Homo sapiens: one gene and its partners. The protein of the gene in region 3 binds, or shares a complex with, the protein of the main gene of each other region. Each region holds a gene or a part of one and is shown on either strand. Other genes may lie near its edges. The genes, in order: POLR1B, POLR1E and POLR1F.

Region 1 (7,107 bases), on a different chromosome or scaffold from region 3:
TCACATACGGCAGTTAGGTGGTTCATCAGGCCACAGGGCTCCCCGTCTGGGGTATGCACGGGACAAAGGAAGCCCCAGGACTCTGGCAGCAGCCTGCGTACTGTGGTGGTCCTCATCTTGGCAAAATCAGCCCCTCTGTGCACGCAGCGGAAATGGGAGAGGTAGCGTATGAAGTTCAGCTTGTCAGCCACAACACAAAGTCCAGAATCTTGTAGGAGGCCAAGACCTTAATAAAACAAAAGTCATTCAAAAATGGGCCAATCTTTTGAAAAATGGAAATTGTTGAGGCTTTATGACGACAAAACCTCAGAGCACTCTACAGATCATAGAATGAATTATTACAACATTTATTCTCCTAGCTCTGATGAGTGTAAAGAGTTCACAAAAAAATATGTAAAATAATCCCCAGATTTCACAAACTGTATTAGCCCCAACTAGTTCCCTGTCTCCTCTATGACCTCCTTTGTGGGTGAACATTAAATGAGTTAATAAAATAGCAAGTAGTTAAATTCATCTGAGAGAGTCAGATAATAGACAAGCAAGAAAGCAGGCTAATGAAAGAATCGGCAACAGTAACATGGGTTTAAAAAAAAAAAAAAAAGGCGGGGCACAGTGGTTCATGCTATAATCCCAGCACTTTGGGAGGCCAAGGTGGGTGGTTCACCAGAGCTCAAGAGTTCCAGACCAGCCTCAGCAGCATAGCGAAACCCCATCTCTACAAAAAATACAAAAATTAGCCAGGTGTTGTGGCTTATGCCTGTAGTCACAGCTACTCGTGGGGCTGACGTCGGAGGATCACCTGAGCCTGGGAAGTCAAGGCTGCAGTGAGCCATGATCCTGCCACTGCACTTTAGACTGGGTGACAGAGTGAGACCCTGACTCAAAAAAGAAAAAAAAAAAATTCTGAATTCCCAATTACCACTTTTTAAGTTTCTAGGGTCATTCTCTTTTTTGTTGAGACAGGGTCTCACTCTGTCACCAGGCTGGAGTACAGTGGTGCAATCACAGCTCACTGCAGCCTTGACCTCCTAGGATCAAGTGACCCTCCTACCTTGGTCTCCCAAAGTGTTGGGATTACAGGCATGAGCCACCACACCTGGCCTCTCAGGTCACTCTGAGGCAAGGCAAATGGTTTAGAGATGGGCATGTACAGCAACCCATCTAGAGTTCCTGTTAGGTAAGCCTTCCTCAGAGGTCTAAGTGGCCTTTCATTTTCTAGAAGGAAGCAGAGAAAATGTATTCAGTTATCTGAATTAAATTTTAGCTATACAGACACCTTGTCTAAAGCCCTTTAGACCAATAGTTGTCGAAGTCATAGTTATGAGAAATTTACTTTTTTCGTGGGGTTTGCTTTTAAAAAGAACTCTCAGGGACAGGCAAATCTACACTAAGCAACTAATTTGAAAAACATAACTAAAACGATCGATTTAATTTTACCTGTTTTAGAACGCAGATTCCCAGTAGCAAAAAGGTATTCAAATGGTTTTGTAAGGTCTATGCCCATTGTAAAAATCCTCATCAAATTGTCAGTGTTCATGGAAACACTGGTCTTCTGAGCCTTCTTATCAAAAGCTATTTTAATAGACACTAACCAACCTTCCAGTTTTTCCTGAAATAAGGAAAAAAAATTAATATAAAATAGTATGTGAGCCAGGTGTGGTGGCTCACATCTATAATCCCAGGATTGGGTGGATCGCTTGAGACCAAGAGTTCAACATGAGACTGGGCAAAATGGTGAAACAAAACCCTGTCTACAAAAAAATTAGCCAGAGGGGGTGGGGTGAGGGGGTGGGGCGTGCCTGTAGTTCCAGCTACTTGGGAGGCTGAGGCGGAAGGATCGCTTGAGTCCAGGAGCCTAAGGCTTCAGTGAGCCATGACTGTGCCACTGCACTCCAGCCTGGGAAACAGGGCAAGACCCTATTCTCAATAAAATAAAATAGTATGTGTTTCAATTATCACAAACTTCATATTTATTCCCATGTAATCTGTACGATCTTTAACAAACGTCTACTAACATACATCAAAACCAAAAACCTGAAAGAGGGCTTTTCAGGTGCAGAAAGGATAGCTCTTCAATGTGATGCCCTCCTTCACCCATTATACTTGTTATACATCTAAAACCAATCACACGAACTACACAGTCCATCTTAATCTATGCTGCCAACACTAAGTGAAAAGCCTAAAGCAGCCTGCAATTCCAAAATTACAGCTAGACTGGAGGAATGAGTTCTGGTATTCTGCAGCAATGTAGGTTGAATACAGTTAACTATATTTGTTGTATATTTTTTCACTGCAGCCTCAACCTCCTGGGTTCAAGGGATTCTCCTGCCTTAACCTCCTAAGTAGGTGGGACCATAGGTATGTGCCACCATGCCTGGCTAATTTTTAAATTTTTTTTGTAGAGATGGGGGTCTCACTTTGTTGCCTAGGCTGGTCTCAAACTCCTGGGCTCAAGCAATCCTCTTGCCTCAGCTTCCAAAGTGCTGGGATTACAGGCGTGAGCCACCACACCCAGCCTTATTGTATATTTTCAAAAAGCTAGAAGAGGGGATTTCGAATGTTCACAACACAAAAAAATGATACATGTTTGAGGTGATGAATGTGTTAATTACTCTGATTTGATCATTATACATTATTGACATATATGGAAAAATCACTGTATACCCGATAAATATGTACAGTTATTACATGTCAACTAAAAATAAAAGAAAAAAAGACTATACACCATCAGCGCTTTCTATGGGTGGTTCAGAAACCACTGAAAATACCTAAGAGAATGTTTGAGATAGGTTCTCTCCTATATTTGATATTTGGAAGAAAACGTGGAAGATGTACATAGGTCACTCATGTATACCTTTTCCAGCAGGCCCCTGAGTCAACACATTAGCCATTGACTATTGATAATCCACCTCTTCAAACTATCAGTGTTTGAACACTCACACTTGGAAGACCTAACTATTCTTCCAGAAGACAGCACTGGAAGTGACACATTTCATTTCTGCATATTCTCTGGCACTGACACTGCATTTAATATCACTGTGGTGCAGTAATATTAAATTTTTAGTACTTGGAAGGAATAAATTTTGGAGAGGTGTGGGAAGAAGGAATATATTTTATAAAATGTTACAATGAATCTCACAACTGACTACACACTAGTAGGATTTGTAAGTACACTGCTAAAAATCTGTAATGTACAGATAAGGGAATTACCAGGGAGTGAAGGAAGCTGTTAGCTCACCCAACAAGGGTATTAATGTAGGTTTGGACTTTATCAAGTGAAACTAGAGAATCAAGTTTGAGTAGAAGAGCCTGGCATCACTGCTCCACCTCTGCTGGTTGCTGTTTAGATTCCTTTCTTGAGCCTACATCTTCCTGTGTCATAAATGTTTTTATCAGGTGTACACTGAACACTTCATCTTCACAGTCAAGATGGAATAAGAAGCCCTGGATCTTGACAACTGATTTGTTTGTGTTCTTCTCCCTTTTTTTTCATAACTATGTCTACTTCCTTATTTGGGTTTAAAATCAAAACCAGAAAGGCTAACTGAAGTGTTTTATGGTTAATCTACAATAATACAGAAAATATGGTTGCTATTTTTCAATTTTATATTGCTTATTTCAATGTAAATACAATGTGAATTTTTAACAGTCTATAATTCATCTTATGTCATGGTTATGTATCTTCTGAAGATTGTTTTTATGCTCCAAACTCAAAGGTTTAAAAGCTTTAACGTAGCTGGTAAGGAAATCAGATACTCGGCAATGAATTCTCTGAAAAAGCCCCAATTTTCCCTTGGTTTCTCTTGTTGCTGACACAGGTCACCTTAGTAACGCCTTGCTACAGAAGACTCATTTCTTTTTTCTGTTGAGACAGGGTCTTGCTCTGTCACTTAGGCTGGAGTGCACTGGCGTGATCACAGCACACTGCATCCTCCGCCGCCTGGGCTCAGGCAATCCTCTTACCTCAGCCTGCTGAGTAGCTGGGACCACAGGTGTGGCCCACCAGGCCTGGCTAAATTTTTTTAAAATTATTTGTAGAGACGAAGTTTTGTCTCTGGGCTGTTTGCCCAGATTGATCTCAAACTCCTGGGCTCAAGTGATCCTCCCACCCCGGCCTCCCAAAGTGCTGGGATTACAGGTGTGAGCCACCGCACCAGGTGTTTTTTTCTTTTTTCTTTTTGAGATAAGGTCTTGCTCTTTTGCCCAGGCTAGAGTGCAGTGGCAAAATCACCCCTTATTGCAGCCTTGACCTCCTGGGCTCAGGGATCCCACCTCAGCCTCCCAAGTGGCTGGGACCACAGTCATGTACCACCATGCCCAGCTAACAGGTTTTTTTTGGAGACAGGGTCTTGCTCTGTCGCCCAGGCTGGAGTGCAGTGGCGTGATCTCAACTCACTGTAACCTCCGTCTCCCAGGCTCATGCAACTCTCCTACCTCAGCCTCCTGAGTAGCTGGAATTGCTGCAGCATGCCAGCATGCCCAGCTAATTTTTATATTTTTTGTAGAGACAGGGTTTTGCAATGTTGCCCAGGCTAGTCTTGAACTCCTGAGATCAGAAGATCCACCCACCTTGGCATCTCAAAGTGCTGGGATTATAGGCGTGAGCCACCACACCCAGCCACTGCTAATAGTTTTTATTATTTCTGTAGCGATCTCTCTGTGCTGTCCAGGCTGGTCTCAAACTCCTTGGGCTCAAGTTACCCTTCTGCCTCAGCCTCCCAAAGTGCTGGGATTACAGGCATGAGCCACTGTACTCCTGGTCTCATTTCTTTTTCTTTTCTTTTTTTTCCTAATTAGGAATTGATGTGGAATAAAGACACATTTATAAGTGTGGAATACAATGAGCCCACCATGCTTCACTTTAAGTAGATGGGAAATGTAAATTAACCTTTACTTGAAAGGTTAATTTAATAACATTAAATTAATAAGAGAAAACTTACGCTGCCTGCTTTCAATTTTTGTCAGGAAAATTGTAGGCTGCTGAAATTTTTCAATCTAATTTTATGGACAGAGCAAACAGAAACAAAGATTATTACCTTTCGGGAAGAATGTAAATAAGAATTACTACCTAGATAAGAAATTAGAAGGCCGGGTGTGGTAGCTCACGCCTGTAATCCTAGCACTTTGGGAGGCCAAGGTGGGTGGCTCACTTGAGGTCAGGAGTTCGAGACCAGCCTGGCCAACATGGTGAAATCCCGTCTCTACTAAAAATAAAAAAATTCGCCGGGCATGGTGGCACGCGCCTGTAATCCTAGATACCCGGGAGGCTGAGGCAGGAGAATTGTTTGAACCCGGGAGGTGGAGGTTGCAGTGAGCTGAGATCGTAGCACTGCACTCCAGCCTGGGAGACAGAGCAAGACTCTGTCTCAAAATAAAATAAAATAAATTAGAAGCCAGGCACAGTGGCTCACACCTGTAATCCCAGCACTTTGGGAGGCTGAGGCAGGTGGATCACCTGAGGTCAGGAGTTCGAGACCAGCCTGGCTGAAATGGTGAAACCCCACCTCTACTAAAAATATATTAACTCTTAGATTACATCTTTTTGAGGATAAGATGCAAAATATAAAATGCCACTGAATCAATATTCTTATGAAATCATTTTTGTGCCATGCCAACTTTCTCTCTATATACATCTACAGTCAAATTTCACTACTCACAGTAGCTATGTTCTAATGAACACTGAATTAACACATATAAAACCACTACTCCTGGGGAAAAATACAGGGCTGGGTTCCTGCAAGTCTCTGGTCATAACATTCTGGTCAACGGATCAATATACAATCTTGTTTAATGTCAGCTTTTGTTGAAAGGCACCTTATTTAACATACCTTGTTAATTCATTAACACTGAACACTAGACAGCGCTTCAGTGCTATGCTTGGGGACCATTATAAACAGCAAAAACTGGCCAGGCTCAGTGGCTCATGTCTCCAATCCTATCACTTTGGGAGGCTGAAACAGGAGGATCACATGAGCCCAGGAGTTTGAGACCAGCCTGTACAACATAGTGGGACCCTGTTTCTACAAAAAAAATTAAAAATTAGCCGGGTGTGGTGGTGAATGTCTATAGTCCCAGCTGCTCAGGAGGCTGAGGTGGGAGGATTGCTTGAGCCTGGGAGGTTGAGGCTGAGACCCTGTCTCAAAAAAAAACAAAAAAGTCACCAATAAGAAGCACGACAATGTGAAAAACATAGCACCAAATGCACCTCAAAAAGGACCCTCTTTATAGTATGAGCTGAAACCGGAAAGCAGAGCATCGCCCTGCCCCGCCTCAGCTGTAACATTTGCCTCAGGAGACCCAAATTCTTCACTGCTCTGCTCATGTATGTGAATAATCATGAAAGCACTGAGCACTGACATTAGGGTTACAAATAAATTTTAGCCAGTGAGTGAATTCACAAATACAGAATCTACAAATAATGAGGATCAACCATATGTATAAATACAGGCCATTTGCTTTTTATCATTAACACTGTGACCAAGATTTGATGTGATCTTTACATAAAAATATTAAGCAAATTTCCAAACCTGGTGTAAGCCAGGATTTCTGATCCCCTTACTGCTAAATGAACAAACAAAAAAGAGACCACACAAAATGCCAAAACTAGAAACTATAAACATGCAGAAAACAGTGCTGCTGGACAAAGTCACGCCATTCCACAAGTGGTACCACTGGCCAAGGGTGGACATAGCATGCATTTACCTTCAGGAACATAAGGAAGAGCTGACCCGGTGTGAGGACTTCCTGGTTCACCAAACTATCAGGATTGTCCTCCATGCACTCTCCTTTGGCTAAAGCAAAGAGCTTTCGCGTCATGAGACAAAGCATATAAAACTTTTCAGTATTGGATTTCAAGTGGATACAGATGCACTGGCTGTGAAAACAGAAAAAAAAAAAAGCTTAAAACAATTCAGTTGGTAATACTACTTAATATTCTATTAACCAAGATCCCCAACTCATGCTTACTTAACTTTAATTAAATAAAATTAAGCATTCAGTTTTTGAGCTACACTGGCCACATTTGAAGTGCTTATCATGTGACTGGTGGCTATGCACTGGACAGCACCAGTATGGAGCTGGCTTCTTTAGTAATTATACAGTGGTTAT
Region 2 (7,079 bases), on a different chromosome or scaffold from region 3:
GTTCAAAAGTTCTCAACCTTCTCTCTGCCCACACACCTGAGGAATGCATCATCTACTCATGGGTAACAATAATCTCCCCTACCCCTACCCCACAGCAATTCTCTGCATAGAGAGGGAATAGGAAAGGATAGGATGGGATGGGAGGATATGAGGTGGTTCTGGGAAAAAAAAAAAAGCTACTAGGTGATTCTGATAGTTGATCACATTTGGGCTCACTGCGGTAGTGTAATGGAAAACTCTTTTGGGGTGTACGAACCTAGAATTACACTACAATTTATGGCACAACAGTTTTATGGAGGCAAAATCAAGTAAACGGGGAGGAGACCAATTGGAACTAGGGCATCTCTGAGAGGGGAGAGTGCAGGGTTAATAGTTCTCAGCACCTATACACCCATCTGACCTCTCCTCTATTGGAGTATGGTCCACCGGGGCTCAGAAAGGGCCTAGTTTGTAGTTCATTGTTGGGTACCATCACAGGGCCCTGTCTGCATCATGCCAGCCCCCGAGAGTGATACAGTTCAGGCTGGACAATCTTCACTGTACAGAGGGGGAGGCTGGGGGTCAGTGATGCGCAGAGTTACCCAGCCACTCAGTCAATCAGCAGCACAGCTGGATGGGAATCCCAGGCTCCTCTTTCCCAGTCCAGAGCCTTCAACACTACCAAGTTCTTTACCTGTCGTTAGTTCCCAGGTAAACTTCACGCAAGCTTTGACCTACTAGTCACACATTCCAAATTAATGGAGAGACCTGCCTTTTGGAATAAGACAGCTATAAATAAACAAGATTACAAATGAATGAGGTTTTTAGGAAATTCAAGTTATCTTTCCTTTCCAGCAACGTCTACACGTGCAGGGAAGGGCTCTGGGTCTAATAGGAACACAGGGATCACCTAGTAAACCTCTCTAGATGGCTCCTGCTACCCTTAAAACAGACAGGAAACAGCAGTGCCAGTGCTGCCACCACTCCCAACCCCATCACCCTTCCCACTGTCCCTTCCCCTGCCATTACCTGCACAAAGTGTTGCATTTGAGGGCTCCAGTCCCAAAATTGTTTCCCACATAGGAGAGCCTATCTGTTTCAGCTGCCTAAAATGCAGAGAGGGGAAACTCCATTTACAACCAATGTTGAAAGGTATTAAGCATCATTTCTCTTTTCTACATTTGCTGAGGCTTTTGAATCCAGACTCACAATGGATTAGAACTAGTTCATCTCTGGCAGATGATCCAGCCCCACTATCTCTAAGGGAATATGGGGTGTCCCTGCAGGGGAAGCAAGACGACTTCTGGAAGAGAAGCCTCAGATGGTGCTAGCTTCTAAATGGTATGAAAAGCTCTTGGGGGAATTCTGCCACAAGACTTGAGAGAGAGGCCCTGGGCTTCTGGCACTTAAAGGTATGCAACAAAGTGATTCTGTAAGCAATCTCTCTTTGGCCTGTTCTTTGTATACTCTCAGGACCATGGCTGATTCACTCCCCAATCATAAGCAAGCTTTCCTGCTTCTCTGCATTTGTCCTCACTATCCTTTTCACTCGAAACACCAAACGTTGACTGCCAAACCCTCATTCCAGCCTTCAAGGCTCAGCTCCAACATGACCTCACCAAGGAAGGCATTCTGGCAGAGACCTCTCCTCCCACTGAGCTCACTCTGCCCTGTACTCTTCCCCACGTGGCCTCAGAGCTTTGTGTAAAAGTGTCCCTCACAGCCAGTTCTCATCTCTCTAGAGCAGAGGTTCTCAATCCAGGGAAATCCACTCTGGTGCTACTGGCATCTAATGAGTAGAGACTAGGGATGCTGCCCCCACAGCAAAGAATTATTGGCCCAAAAAGTCAATAGTCCTGAGGTTGAGAAACCCTGCTCTAGAGTATGAACTCTGAGTGGGGCTAGGCCTGATTTGGCTGTTTTCCTAGAAGCTTGCAGCACAGGGATGCAGAGGGGCAGGTTCCATAAATGCTTGTTGAAAGAACAAATGAATGAAAGATGGAGCCTGTCCCCACATCCCAGGCTGCTGGGCATCAGAGTTCTTCAAAGCTCCATTTGCTACTACTCCCCTTTTTCTCCCCTCACTCCCTCCCACATCCACCCACTCCCAGGGGCCTTCTGAGCCCTGCAGAGTGGAGACAGCTGGCAACTGCTTCACTTACCAGGATCCGTTGATTCCTCTTCCTGGGGTTGGTGGAATCTTTGTTCTCATACAAGGTAAAGCGCATGTTGCCTGGACTCTGTAGCTTCCCGTTGGAGAACTGGACTGTAAGAGTGCAGCCCAAGAATGAGATGAGAGCAGAAGGCCACACAATGTACCACACAATGTACGGTGGGACTAGACTGTCACTGGGAGGGAGTGTCAGAATGGGGATGGCAAGGAAGCTCGGGTCCTGACCCAAAGGGAACTGGAGGAGATCCGGGGCCAGCTGAGAAGAGGAGGTAGGGAGGTGGGAGAACCCTGGGGAGGGGCTGTGACAGGAGGGAATGTCTCGCGGAAGGAGGCTGACAGCAGAGGCCTGGTACATACCTAAAGTGACAGAAGGAACCCCTGCCCAGTGAAGAGAGGGAAATGGGGGAGGCGGGAGACCTGGTGGGTGAGGGGGTCAGCAGGGTCCTGGACACAGCTCTGGGGAGCGGGTGAGTGGGATGTCCCAATCTGGCTGGGAGGTAGTGACAGAAAGACGGACAGGGGAGCCCTGACAGAGCCCAGGGGAGTGGTGGAGACTAGAGGGGTCCCGGCCCCGCTGGGGAGAAGCCCAACGGAGGGCGAGAGGACAGCTGAGGTACCGAGACGGAAGGGGAGAGGGTTAGAGGAGCACTGCTCCAGCTCCGCAGTCTTTACCCAGTACAGCTCTCTGGCTCCCGTCGGGCGCCCCACAATACTGCCACCTCGCACTCGGCAACACCTCCGCCGCCATCTCGCCTGTCTGTCCGCCAAGCACAGGAGTTAAGACAGCAGCAGCCACAAGCGCACTTTTAAACACGCGGGAGCCCAGGCCGCGCTGCGGGCCGGAAAAGGCGTGGCCCCGCCGGGCACCGCCCACAGCGCGCGAGCCGCGTGTCCCCGCCCCCCGCGTAGAGAGGCGTGGTCTCCGCCCACAAGGTGCCACACACCCGCTTGACTGGCCGAGGCGCAGCACCTGATTGGCTCAGCGCTCGCGTGCACTCTGGGTTTTGTAGGTCCAGAGCCCGAGGCGCCAAAGGCTTCAGCCTAAGCTTGCTATGAGCCTTCTTCCGGCTCAGCACCTTCTAAAGAGAGTGTCGTCTCTCTCTCCTACCGTGACAAACTCATCTTCCCAAGACCTGAAGGACCAAGTTCAAATTTAGAATTCTCTGACAGGAACTGCTTGAGCCCCAACTAAATGTGGCCGCTGGCGAATAGCCGCCCCTCTCTAGGGCTTCCCACCCACCCACGTGGACATCCAGCTCTAGGTACAAACTTTGTCCACAGTCCGACAAACAGCTCCCCGCCATGGGCTGTGGCGTGCACACCTGTGGCCCAATCAACACTGAGGTGATGGAACAGAAGCCCAGCCAACCCCGGAGCCTTTGGGCAGGAGATTCTGGACTGGAATAGAAGAGGGAGTCCGAGCTGATGGACATGTCCCTTTTTCACTGCGGATTCAACCCTTCTTCTGCACGGGGAGTTTTCAGAGCAGAAAGAAGGCGAAAGCAGGGCCTTTAAGCATGGACGCTGGCCGAGGCCCCCTTTGCCCAAAGATGCGTACTATTGAAGGGCAAGAACTCCGGTTGACTCCCCTCTGTCTTCCAAATCACCTTCTTTCAAGACTCTTTTCCTTCCACACACCCTCAACACCCGCCTCCAACACCCAGGATCCTAGGAATAACCCTAAAGCCTGCATGCCCCTTTGCCTGAGCACTTGTCACGCTTTTCTAATTACCCAATCTCAAACGTAAAGAAACACTGCAAGAAATGTTTTTGCCCTGAACCATTTAGAGTAAGTTGTCAACCTGATACCCTTTCAACCCTGAAGACTATAGTATTTCCTACAGACATTCCCTAAATAACAACACAGCCATCAGAATCAGCAAATTGCCGGGCGCAGTGGTTCACGCCTGCAATCCCAGCACTTTGGGAGGGAGAGGCAGTTCTATCCCTTGATTCCAGGAGTTTGAGACCAGGCTGGGCAACATAACAAGACCCTGTCTCTACAAAAAATAATATTAGCCATGTGTGGTGGCGCACGCGTGTCGTCCCAGCTACTCGGGAGGCTGAGGTGGGAGGATTGCTTGAGCCTAGGAGGCAGAGGCTGCAGTGAGCTGTGATGGTGCCACTGCACTCTAGCCTGGGCGACAAAAAAAAAAAAAAAAATTAAACAGAAAAGAATCAGGAAATTAGCACTGGTACATTACCACCATGTAATCCTCACATCCCATTTAAGTTCACCCATTGTCCCAACGTTTGTTGTTAGTTTGTTTTTTGAGACAGGGTCTCACTCTGTCACCCAGGCTGGAGTGCAGTGTTGCAACCAGGGCTCACTGCAGCCTTGACCTTCCAGGCTCAAGTGATCCTCTCACCACAACCTGGGAATACAAGTGTGTGCCACCACACTCAGTTTTGTTTTGTTTTTTCTTAATTAAAAAAATTTTTTGTAGAGACTAGGTCTCACTGTGTTGCCAGGGCTGGTCTCAGACTCCTGGGCTCAAGTGATCCTCCCACCTTGGCCTCCCAAAGTTCTGGGATTACAGGCGTGAGCCATTGCAGCTGGCCCAATCATGTTTTTATAGCAAAAATGTCCTGTCAAGAATCATGTGTTGCATTTAGCTCTCATAGCCTTTCCTCCCTTAGAAGGCTACCTTGCTTGACCCCACCTCATGATTTTGGATTGAATTGTTCAGGAAAGGAAAAGGGAAGAAGAAGAAAGAAGAAAGAAGGATGAAGAAAGAAGAGCTTAATTGTGTGATTGTCTCACCCATTGATTGTTTCCTCACTAAACTTACTTGGGGTTCACAATAAACACTTTGGAGGTTAATAAACAAATTTATGTTTGTTTTGATCACTGCTTTATCTCCAAATCCTGAACATACTAGACCCTCAATAAATATGGAATGAATTAATGAATGACAGGGCAAAGAATGGGCCTGAATTATCACTAATCTTGGAAGCCTAGCACAGGGACTGGAACTCAAAGATGTTTGGTAATATTGGTTGAAATCAACTAGCATAGGGTTTACACATAACAGACTCTATAAATGTTTTTTGGTTGAATGAAAATATGAACAGTTAAATCAAAGTTAAAGGTGACCAAGATAACAGTGGCTACAATGAGCCAAGTATAGTTCTTAAGAGAAGTATCTTGTGATATAGGAACACATTATATGGCCTTGTTACTCATGATATAGGAACACATTGTATGGCCTTGTTACTCAAAGTGTGGTCCATGGAAACAGCAGCCTCGACAGCACCTGGGAACTTGTTAGAAATATAGGATCTCCAACCCTATCAAATCTTCTGCAACAGGATCTGCAGGTGATTCATGTGCACTTGAAGTTTAGGAATCACTGTTATACCGGACTGATTCCCCTTTAAGGCACATATTTGCCAGTCAGACAGATTATGTGCAAGTCCCCTGGATTGACTGTTTTGTAGCGAGGACAAAGAGTGAAGAGTACAACACACCCACTGAAGCAAAAACTCCTAGAATTACCACAGGCAAGAATTCCAAATGACGGAGATTCTATCCGTGGAAGCAAAGTGTTGATGGTCAGGCAGCTGGGAAGGGGATCATAGTATACCCCTGTGTTGTTTAATTATTTAACAGTTATTCAAAAGACACACCTATACACACCATGTACATATACATACGTGCCTGTGTAACTGGGATGGGGCAGGATGGAGGTGGGATGGGGCAGGATGGAGGGAGCCCTACATAGGCATTAACCAAAATGCAAAAACCTATAGTGGCCTCTTTTATTTTTTTATTTTATTTAATTATTTATTTATTTTTTTGAGGCGGAGTCTCACTCTTGTCGCCCAGGCTGGAGTGCAGTGGTGTGATCTGGGCTCACTGCAACCTCCGCCTCCTGGGTCCAAGCAGTTCTCCTGCCTCAGCCTCCTGAGTAGCCAGGATTACAGGTGCCCACCACCACGCCCGGCTAATTTTTGTAGTTTTGTTAGAGACAGGGTTTCACCATGTTGGCCAGGCTGGTCTCGAACCCCTGACCTCAAGTGATCCACCTGCCTCAGCCTCCCTAGGTGTTGGGATTACAGGCGTGAGCCACCACACCTGGCCAGGTGGCCTCTTTTATATTCAAATCGTGGATAATCACAGGCAAAATTTACCACATAATTTTTTTTGGAAATTTAGTTTGGAAATAATTCAGAGACACCTGGAGTTCTCTTTTAGTATCATTTTTCAGAGAAGGAAAATGGTTTTCCAGAGGGCAAAAGGAGAGGGAGAAAAGCAAAGTCCTCCTTTCCTGGGGTAATATCTCCATCTGCTGGTGTTTCAGGATAACACTAACAAAGACCTGAAAAGGCGAGTCAGATTCCATACTGTTTGCAGTGACTCGCCCTGTACTCTGGGGAATGGCTTCTTTTTTTTTTTTTTTTTTTTTTTTTGGAGACAGAGTCTCGCTCTGTCACCCAGGCTGGAGTGTAGTGGCGCGATCTCGGCTAACTGCAACCTCTGCCTCCCGGATTCAAGCAATTCTCCTGCCTCAGCCTCCTGAGTAGCTGGGATTACAGGCGTGCATCACCATGCCCGGCTAATTTTTGTATTTTTAGTAGAGATGGGGCTTCACCATGTTGGTCGGGCTGCTCTTGAACTCCTGACCTCGTGATCCCCTGCCTCAGCCTCCCAAAGTGTTGGTATTACAGGCGTGAGCCACCGCGCCCGGCCGAGAATAGCTTCTTCTGTCTCACCTCTTCTCTTCCTTTCTTGTCCCTCTGCTTCTCTTTTTCCTCCCTTCCTTTCTCCCTCTGTGTTTGTCTCACTCTCTTGTTCTCTCCTCTGGTCATTCCCATTCCTTTCCTTCATATCCCTGATGCAGACCCTCTTTGCATACCTACACACATGGATGACTCACTCCTTAAAAGGTGGACTTCTCACCTTGAACAGGTTTTTTCCTTACAT
Region 3 (8,013 bases):
AAGCTGAAATCATTCCTCTACTCCTATAGGCCAACTTTCTCACTGTTCTTAATCTAATTGTATTGAACCTATCTGTATATATGTTTGAATTTCACACATGACTCTAAGGCCTTTGATAGCAAAGAATATTTTTTGTTGAACTCAAACTTCTAACAATTCACATAAAATAAGGGAAAGAATTTATCCCTAACAGATGTTGTTTAGTAAAACAGCCAGAAGCCACAGAAAATACACTTTAAGAATTACCAAATTAGGAAAACCCTAACTCAGAGACTTACTCGGGAAAGCAATTTTCTGAGGTTTTAATTTCCGCATGTGGCATTCCTAAGCTGGAATCATCCTATCACTAAGACAATGTTAGGGACACAGAAAACAGAGAATAGGAAGAAAAATTAACTGCCATACTAGACAGAAAAACAAATTATCAAGACTTTATTTCCGCTAATCAAAGCCTTGTCTCTCAAGTATCAGAGTGATTCTCAAGGGGAAGGAGGGCTGTGGTCCCCTGGTGGAAGGGGGGACATGTGGAAATTTGTGATACTAGTCATGGTTATCACAAACTTTGCAGAAGCCAGGGAAGAAAAGAGTCTGTCATGTACAGGACAGTCTGATACAATGAGGAAATGTCCTTCGCTCTGACTTTTGAATAAAAGGACAAATCTATTTACAAATAGCTAGGCACCTAATTTAACTCTTAAAACACATCAACACAAAGTCATCTTTGCACAGTTTTAATATATATTAAAATTTTCAGGAACTTAGCAGTATATAAATTCAAGGGGGATTTTGTTAAAAGTCATCAGATATGTGAACACAGGCACCCAACACTATATACTTTTTCCTCCTTCACTTTTGTTTTTCAGATACCATCCTAAATAGGTATCAGGGCAAGGTGGTAGCCTCACTTCAGTTCTTTAATACTATATGTTCAATGTTTTGTCCCTTATTAGTAATGCATAGTTCAAAGTGTGGTGCCTGATTTGCACTTGAATAAACAGCATACCCAAGTAATATGGAAGGAGTGGTGTCCAGATCTGTTCAGAGCCACTCTGCGTGATTTCCCCCTCTAGCCTGTCAAGTGCAGGCAGTACTGGTTACAGAAAACAAGATAGTTGCTTGTGTTTCCAAATGTTATGACTACTTTGTATATCCTTTAATTTCTCAAATCCATCCTCTCTAATCATTTTCTCTTGGACAATTATAACATTATCTTAATTCCTCTCCTTGTCCACTTTCTCATCCTATTTGGTAGCTAACCATTAAGTAAATGTTGTTTCTTAAACTGCAAATCTGATATGCCAGGGACTGCAGAGAAGTACTAGTTTCTCAAAAGTGTGCCAAGTCTCAGCGTTAAAGGGACTGAGAGGACGGAGCACTAACCCTGCTTAAGAAAACAGAAACACAAAAGGAAAAACAACAACAACCCCACCTTACCCCCAAAATAACAAAAACTGGCAATGGCAGGAAGGGAAAAGCAAAATGGCCATCCTCTCTGAGTCATCTTTGACCCCCTGCCCTCCTCTCCAATGGCATCCAATGCCTTTCCCCTGACATAAACCTTATTCTACTTATATAATAGATACAGTTCTCTGGGCAAAGCATACCAGTTCACATCCAGTATCCGTTTGTTTATGCCACTCTCTTTGCCTGGAATGTTACCATGTTAAAGTACCCTCTTCAATCAAGTTGTTCTCAAAGGTCCCAAGATCCAAATTCTACACTCCTTATCTTATTAGATTTCTGTCAAATTTTAACACTTTACTATTTATTGGCTTGTATTTGTATCTCTCCTACAGCTTAAAGCTCCTTGAAACAGAGATTTTATTTTTTGTTTTTGTATCTCAAGTGTTCGGTATGTAATATAAACATACAAGAAGTGTATATTGGTGCTTGGAAGAATCTGCAGATTCTAGACATGGGTGGAGGTCCAGGATCCCTTAAGAAACTGATAAAAACTTCCGATGCAGTGCCCAAGGAACTTCACATAGGAATTCCTGAAGGGCAATCATGAATCCCTAGAGAATCCATTCCCTCTAGTTTTAGAACCCCGCTTTTAAACCAAAGTATAGTCCAGAGGAATACTCAAGCACATGCCCGCGCCCCCCGCCCCACACCTCTGTAATTCTAAGTTTTCAAGTCACTTTTGAATACCGTAATATAAATGCATACGTTTTGGTTTTTTCTCTCCCCAAAGCAACAGGCTCACTAGTTCGACTGAATAAATCTTCTTAAAAACAACAAAATCCCGCTAAACTAATGGCATTTTCATAATCCCCAGATCAGGTCCAAGAGAAGAGAAAATGGGGAAATTACCAGAGCGAAATCCAACAACAAAAAAGGTCCTTCATGTTTTACAAATAGAACGGTTGTACTAATGCTTCGTATGCTATCTTCTATGGAATGAGAATCTACTCAAGCACTGCAAACCAGATTTTTATCGTCAAATGAGAAAGCATCATCCGTAAGGGGATAAATGAAACGTTGAATGCCAAACAGAACTGGGCCTACTAGGTCTCCAGATCCCTGGTCTTTTCCTACCCCTACACCAGGGTTCTGGAGCAAGAATCTCCACTCCCTCCGCCCACACCTGAACTTCATCTTTAAGTTTTCTTCTCTATCTATGAAAGGGACCCTGTATAGATCTTTACCAGAGCGGTACTGGCCTTGAGGGACGGATCGCGACTCTAGAAATCCAGGGGGCTAAGCTCTGGGGGGCAATGCGACCTTTGCCATTTGCCCCTTTCTGCTGCGTCGTCAGCACATCCACCTGCTTTACTTCCCGTGCACAAAAGAAGGAACAGGCAAAGAGATCGGTACCTCTCAGAATAGCGAAGGAGCTCCGCATCAAGCTGTTCTCGAATGCCGGTGCGTTTCCTGTTAAGGTAGCGGGGCGACAGCGCGATGTGCCTTTGGTGCGGCCCGGCCACCAGGCATGAGTAGCGACTGTTCACCAGCGCACAAGCAGCGGCATAAGTCGGCAACTCTAGGCAAGGCAGGACGCCAGCCTGCCCTACCAGAGACCCATCAGAAGCCGCCGCTGGCCGCGGCGCCTCTGAGCAACCTGCAGCCATGCTGCTTGTCAAGGTTCCCACGGCGCGCGCCGTTGACGCAAGCACAATCCCATGTCCCCGGCGCTCGTTTTACGCCATCCACCAACGACCACGCCCCTAGGAATTTCCCCTCTTTTCGCTGCATTACGCAGCCCTGACCAGCAGGGGGAACCGCGTTTTCGCGCTTCGAGAACGGGAGCTTAGAGCCTCGGAAATGCATTGAGCACGCAGGAAAGCCAACCGACTGCTCTTTTAAGGGCAGGCAAATGTGTGTTTTCGCACAGAGGCTTATTGGATTAAGTAGGTAGCTTAAAAATGGGGGTTCTCACTTTGATCATTTCCAGTAGTGAGGTGGGTTTGGTAGAATTTTACAGGCTTGGACTGTACAATAAAAAATCAAAATATTTATGGAGTATATTTTATGCAGTACACGGAATCCTAAGCAGGCCTGATAATTGTAATGCAACGCATCTGAAAACGAACCCACTAGTTCTCTCCTGTCCCGCTTCTCTTCTCATTATGCAACTGCTAAATCAGGGAATCATACAGCCAAGCTGTCAGCCTCGGATCCTCTTTTGTATCCCCAAGTATCAAATCAGCCTGAAGACCTGTATTGCCCAAAGTGGAAATATCATTCTATTTGGACACTATTCTCTTTCCCTGCCGCCAAAACCGCAGGACTCCCTGCCTGTGGAAGCCTAGCTCAATGGTCAGGAGGACACTCTGGGGCAGCCAGATCTTCCCTGAAATACATATGATCGTGTTGTGCCCTGTTTAAGCCCTACATAGGCACCCCATTTTCTCTAGGACAACACAAACTCATGAAAATGGCTTATAAGTTACAAGGCCATTTTGTGATCTGCGTGGGCACACAGCCTCTCTCTTCAGCTTCATTTGTCACACTCCCCACCCTAATATTATCATGCTGCTTGATCTACTTTCAGGTCTCTCTTTGTGCAGTCTCACGCTGTTCCTTCCACCAGGGAATATAATAGCATTTTTCACAAGGGTAAATTCTACTCATGTATGAATTTCTAGCTTAGATTTTACATTCTATACCTTTGCAAAGAGTTTTCAAGCACCCCACTCCTCTTTCTCTATAAGGATTAGGTAGTTACCCATCTATGTTGGTTTTTATGTTAATTTTTTATTAACTGTCTTTGCTTGCCTGTTCCATCAATAGATTCCTACACTCACTAAAGTGGGGACCATAATATCTGTATTGTTCACTACAGTAGCCCCCCACAATTTATCCCTCCTCCAAAGAAACGAAACCAAGAAAAACCCAACCAATACATCTTGAATGAATAACCTGATAGTGAGTTAATAAATAATAAGTGATAAAGAGCTCACAGCCTAAGTGGAAGTGGGATCTAAACATAAACATATAACAGGTTATGCTGGATAAGTGCCAAGAGAAATGTATAGCAGTGATGTGAGTATTAACATACTCCCTCATCTCCTAAATACTGCAAAAAGCCTCTTAGCCTCTCTAAACCTGATTTCTGACTTGTAAAATACGAAAAATAATACTTGCCCTGCTACCTTAGAGAGATGATAGGAGGGTCAAACAAGATAAATAAAAGGCATTTTCTTTAATATTCCTTAAATAACTGCAAACTCAGCATGAGATGATAGTGGGATGAGACTGCCCCCAAAACCTAATAGTAGACACTTTTAAGTCCATAAATGGGAAACATAATGGCTTTTACCTTCATTTTGTTGCAAAGTCCTGTGATACCCCTGTGCAGGACCCTTTTGTTCAATGTGCTCAAACTTGGCTAAACAATGAAGTCACCTAAGGTGAGGAGCTTTAAGAACTCCTGATGCCCGGATGACATCACAGATCAATTCAATCAAAACCTCTCCAGGTGACTACACCTTACAGTCAAGATGGATCTAGACTGGCTGTAAGTGATTTGAATGAAAACAATTTGGCCAAGAAAGAATTTAGTAAAAAACAAGCTGGACATCATGACAATTTGATCAAAACAAAACGTTACCTGAAATCAAATATTCCAGTAATAATCTTTCACAACTAGTAAATGTAGTGCACCCATGCAGTAGTTTTGTAACCCTAGGTATGTCCAGTTGCAGTTAGAAGTTTGCTTGTTTAAATTTTGAAACTGATTTTCTCATTTTCAGTTTTAAAAATTCTGACTTGATCATTAGCTGCTATCCATGCTCTGCATGATTTGAGAGCGAACAAGGTGATTCTGCCTGCATGCCAGTGTTCACCATTGTGGGGTTACTTTACAAATTAACCTGCTCCACCTTCGACACAGGGAAGAAAACAGAAATAACCATGAGTTCCTCCTACCTACCCTACCCTGCAGACATATACAAAGTTTATTTGTTCAAAGACCTGTAGTTGAACTGAACCATTTTATTTTTCTCTAAAATTTGTCCAAGTTCCACAAAAAGTAAGGCATTGGTGGTCCCTGTCTCATGAAAAGCTCTGTCAAGTCAAAGGCAATGTGCTGAGAAGATCTTCATTCTACAAGGAGGAGAAAGAAAGTTAGAAATAATTTTGACCCCATGACCAATGGCCTCAGAGGAAGAGAGAGAAAATTTCCTGTGCAACTGTCTGTATTATTTTATCACTGACCTTGCCACCTCCAGCATGCACACACATATACCTTATTATATTAGTGTGTTTCTATTCCTCACAATCAGATAATCCCTGGAGCAACATAAATGTGCAAAAATTGGTGGTTTGCTGAAATAAATAATGGTGGTTACAAAGTAATATGTGACATATGCTCTGATTGTTACAGAACACATGCACATTTATATGCTTAGAAAAAAATCATGGGGCACATGATTGTATTCATGCATCTAGGTCAACAACAGCTGATCTATATGACGGTGGCCCTGTAAGTTTATAATGCCATGTCTTTTTACTGTATCGTTTCTATGTTTAGATATACTTAGTTGCACAAATACTTGCCACTGTGTTACGGTTTCCTACAGTATTCAGTACAGTAACAGGCTGTCCAGGTTTGTAGACCAGGAGCAATAGGCTACAGGCTATTTATCAACCAGCTAAATAGCAATAGGCTATTTATCAATCAAGGAATCTAACCCAGGCATGACTTATGCCATAACTTATCCTTTCAATTACTAAAGATCTTCACATTTTCTATGTACATGACCAAAGCTGATAAAGGAGGAGATTAGCATAGCACATCATATAGCGTAAGTGTGTAGTAAGGTATGTCATCTGGATTTATGTAAGTATGCTCTATGATGTTCATGCAATGATGAAATTGCCTCATTATGCATTTCTCAGAATGTATCCTTGTCATTAAGCGACACATGTCTATACCATATGTTAAAGTTAGTCATCTCTTGAGTATGAATTTATACTTTCCTTTTATTTTTGTGAATTTTTATATATTATTTTAATGTTTATACAGAAAAAAATCAGAAACTTAATCAGAAGATTTAAGTTGTTACAGGACATACTCTAGTTTTAGATGATTTAATAGTGTTGGTTGGTGCAAAAGTAATTGTGGGTTTTGCCATTACTCTTAGTGGGAAAAATGACGCTTACTTTTGCACCAGCCTTAATACAAGGAGAAGAGCCTCCTAGATGCTAAAGTCACATTGCTTGAGTTCATATCCTGGCTCTGTCACTTACTAGATGTGTGATGTTAGGCACATTTCTTTCATTTTTCAAAAAGCTAAAATTATTACAGTAGGATTATGTGAAGATGGAATCAGACAGGAATTTTTGACTATATGTAATGGTTTGCATAAAAAATTCCTATAAAGAGCATTCCATGAAAAATGTCATTGTATCAGTTAGCTTTTGCTGCATAACAAACTATCCTCAAATGTAGTGGCTTTAAATAAAACTATTAATTTAACTCATAATTCTATGGGTACAAATTTGGGCAGCACTCAGTTGGGTTCACTTGTGCATCTGTCCTCATGTGTGGCCCCATGTGTCTGGTGTTCCAGCAGGCTAGAGTGAGCTTGCTCTCCTGGCAGCTATGCAGATTTCCAAGATAGAGCAGGAAGCACACAAGACCTTCTGTCTAGACTCTAGAACTTCCACAATGTCAATCCAATGTATGGGGTACATCTGATCTCATGTACTTTGTTCTTTGCCTCAGAGAGGCTCAGAAGCTTCTTCTGTCATATATCAGGGGTATATACGTCCCTAGGAATGCCCACCCTGGATAAAGAGCAATACTAGTACTGACAGGAAGGATTTAATCACACTTATATGACTGTTTATATCAAATTGGTGGAATGAGTGATGAGTGTCAACATCACAATGACCAACATTATCACAGGTAAACTTTACTACAAACCTGCCAGATGCTATGCCAAGTGCCCTAGGTAAATCACTGACAGATAATCTTTATGAATTGATTACACTAATGACATATATTTACAAGCGAGAAGCCTGTATTCTAAAAGAAATGTCAGCCTCATGATGGTAGCTATCCTCTCTGTATTGCTAACAGTCATATGCCCAGGGCCTAATGCATACTCCTTGAGTGAATGAACCAATGACTTTCCCAAGAATACCCAGCGATTTATCAATAAAGGAATCTAACCCAGGCATGAGTTATCCCATAATTTATGCTTTGAATCACTAAAGATCCTCACTTTTTCTATGTCTATATCAAAAACTGATGAAGAAGGAAATTGTAAAAATTGATGGTTTATTTTATTTAGTCTCTGCCTAGAAAAGTGCTAAGGTAAGATATTTGACCAAATTGGTAAATATTAACATTTTAGTAGGATTGGAAAGGTGTCAAACAAGCACCAGTTTTAGCCGAAATATATATAATACAGGGTATATCAACCAAATGTTTGTTGATGCAGACCACTTGTGTTTCACAAATTTGCCAGCAGATGGCAAAAATGAGCTTAAATTTGTAAAGTTTTGCTTTAGCTTAAGGACTGTAGAAATGACAAAAGTGAAGGGAAACTTTATTGATGGCTT

Evidence for each region.
Region 1: POLR1F (region 3) and POLR1B share a complex: the UniProt entries of both Homo sapiens proteins name them as parts of the RNA polymerase I (Pol I) complex.
Region 2: POLR1F (region 3) and POLR1E share a complex: the UniProt entries of both Homo sapiens proteins name them as parts of the RNA polymerase I (Pol I) complex.

Annotation. Positions count from the first base shown.
Region 1 is NC_000002.12:112,552,412-112,559,518, reverse strand, and holds part of POLR1B (DNA-directed RNA polymerase I subunit RPA2), read right to left. Parts: intron 6,875-7,107; coding exon 6,703-6,874; intron 5,981-6,702; exon of another isoform or gene 5,829-5,980; intron 4,996-5,828; exon of another isoform or gene 4,940-4,995; intron 1,610-4,939; coding exon 1,438-1,609; intron 227-1,437; coding exon 1-226. UniProt on the Homo sapiens protein: Catalytic core component of RNA polymerase I (Pol I), a DNA-dependent RNA polymerase which synthesizes ribosomal RNA precursors using the four ribonucleoside triphosphates as substrates.
Region 2 is NC_000009.12:37,481,869-37,488,947, reverse strand, and holds the start of POLR1E (DNA-directed RNA polymerase I subunit RPA49), read right to left. Parts: upstream 3,001-7,079; 5' UTR 2,901-3,000; coding exon 2,825-2,900; intron 2,716-2,824; exon of another isoform or gene 2,508-2,715; coding exon of another isoform or gene 2,246-2,507; coding exon 2,142-2,245; intron 1,086-2,141; coding exon 1,009-1,085; intron 1-1,008. UniProt on the Homo sapiens protein: Component of RNA polymerase I (Pol I), a DNA-dependent RNA polymerase which synthesizes ribosomal RNA precursors using the four ribonucleoside triphosphates as substrates.
Region 3 is NC_000007.14:19,705,946-19,713,958, forward strand, and holds the start of POLR1F (DNA-directed RNA polymerase I subunit RPA43), read right to left. Parts: upstream 3,093-8,013; 5' UTR 3,072-3,092; coding exon 2,818-3,071; intron 1-2,817. UniProt on the Homo sapiens protein: Component of RNA polymerase I (Pol I), a DNA-dependent RNA polymerase which synthesizes ribosomal RNA precursors using the four ribonucleoside triphosphates as substrates.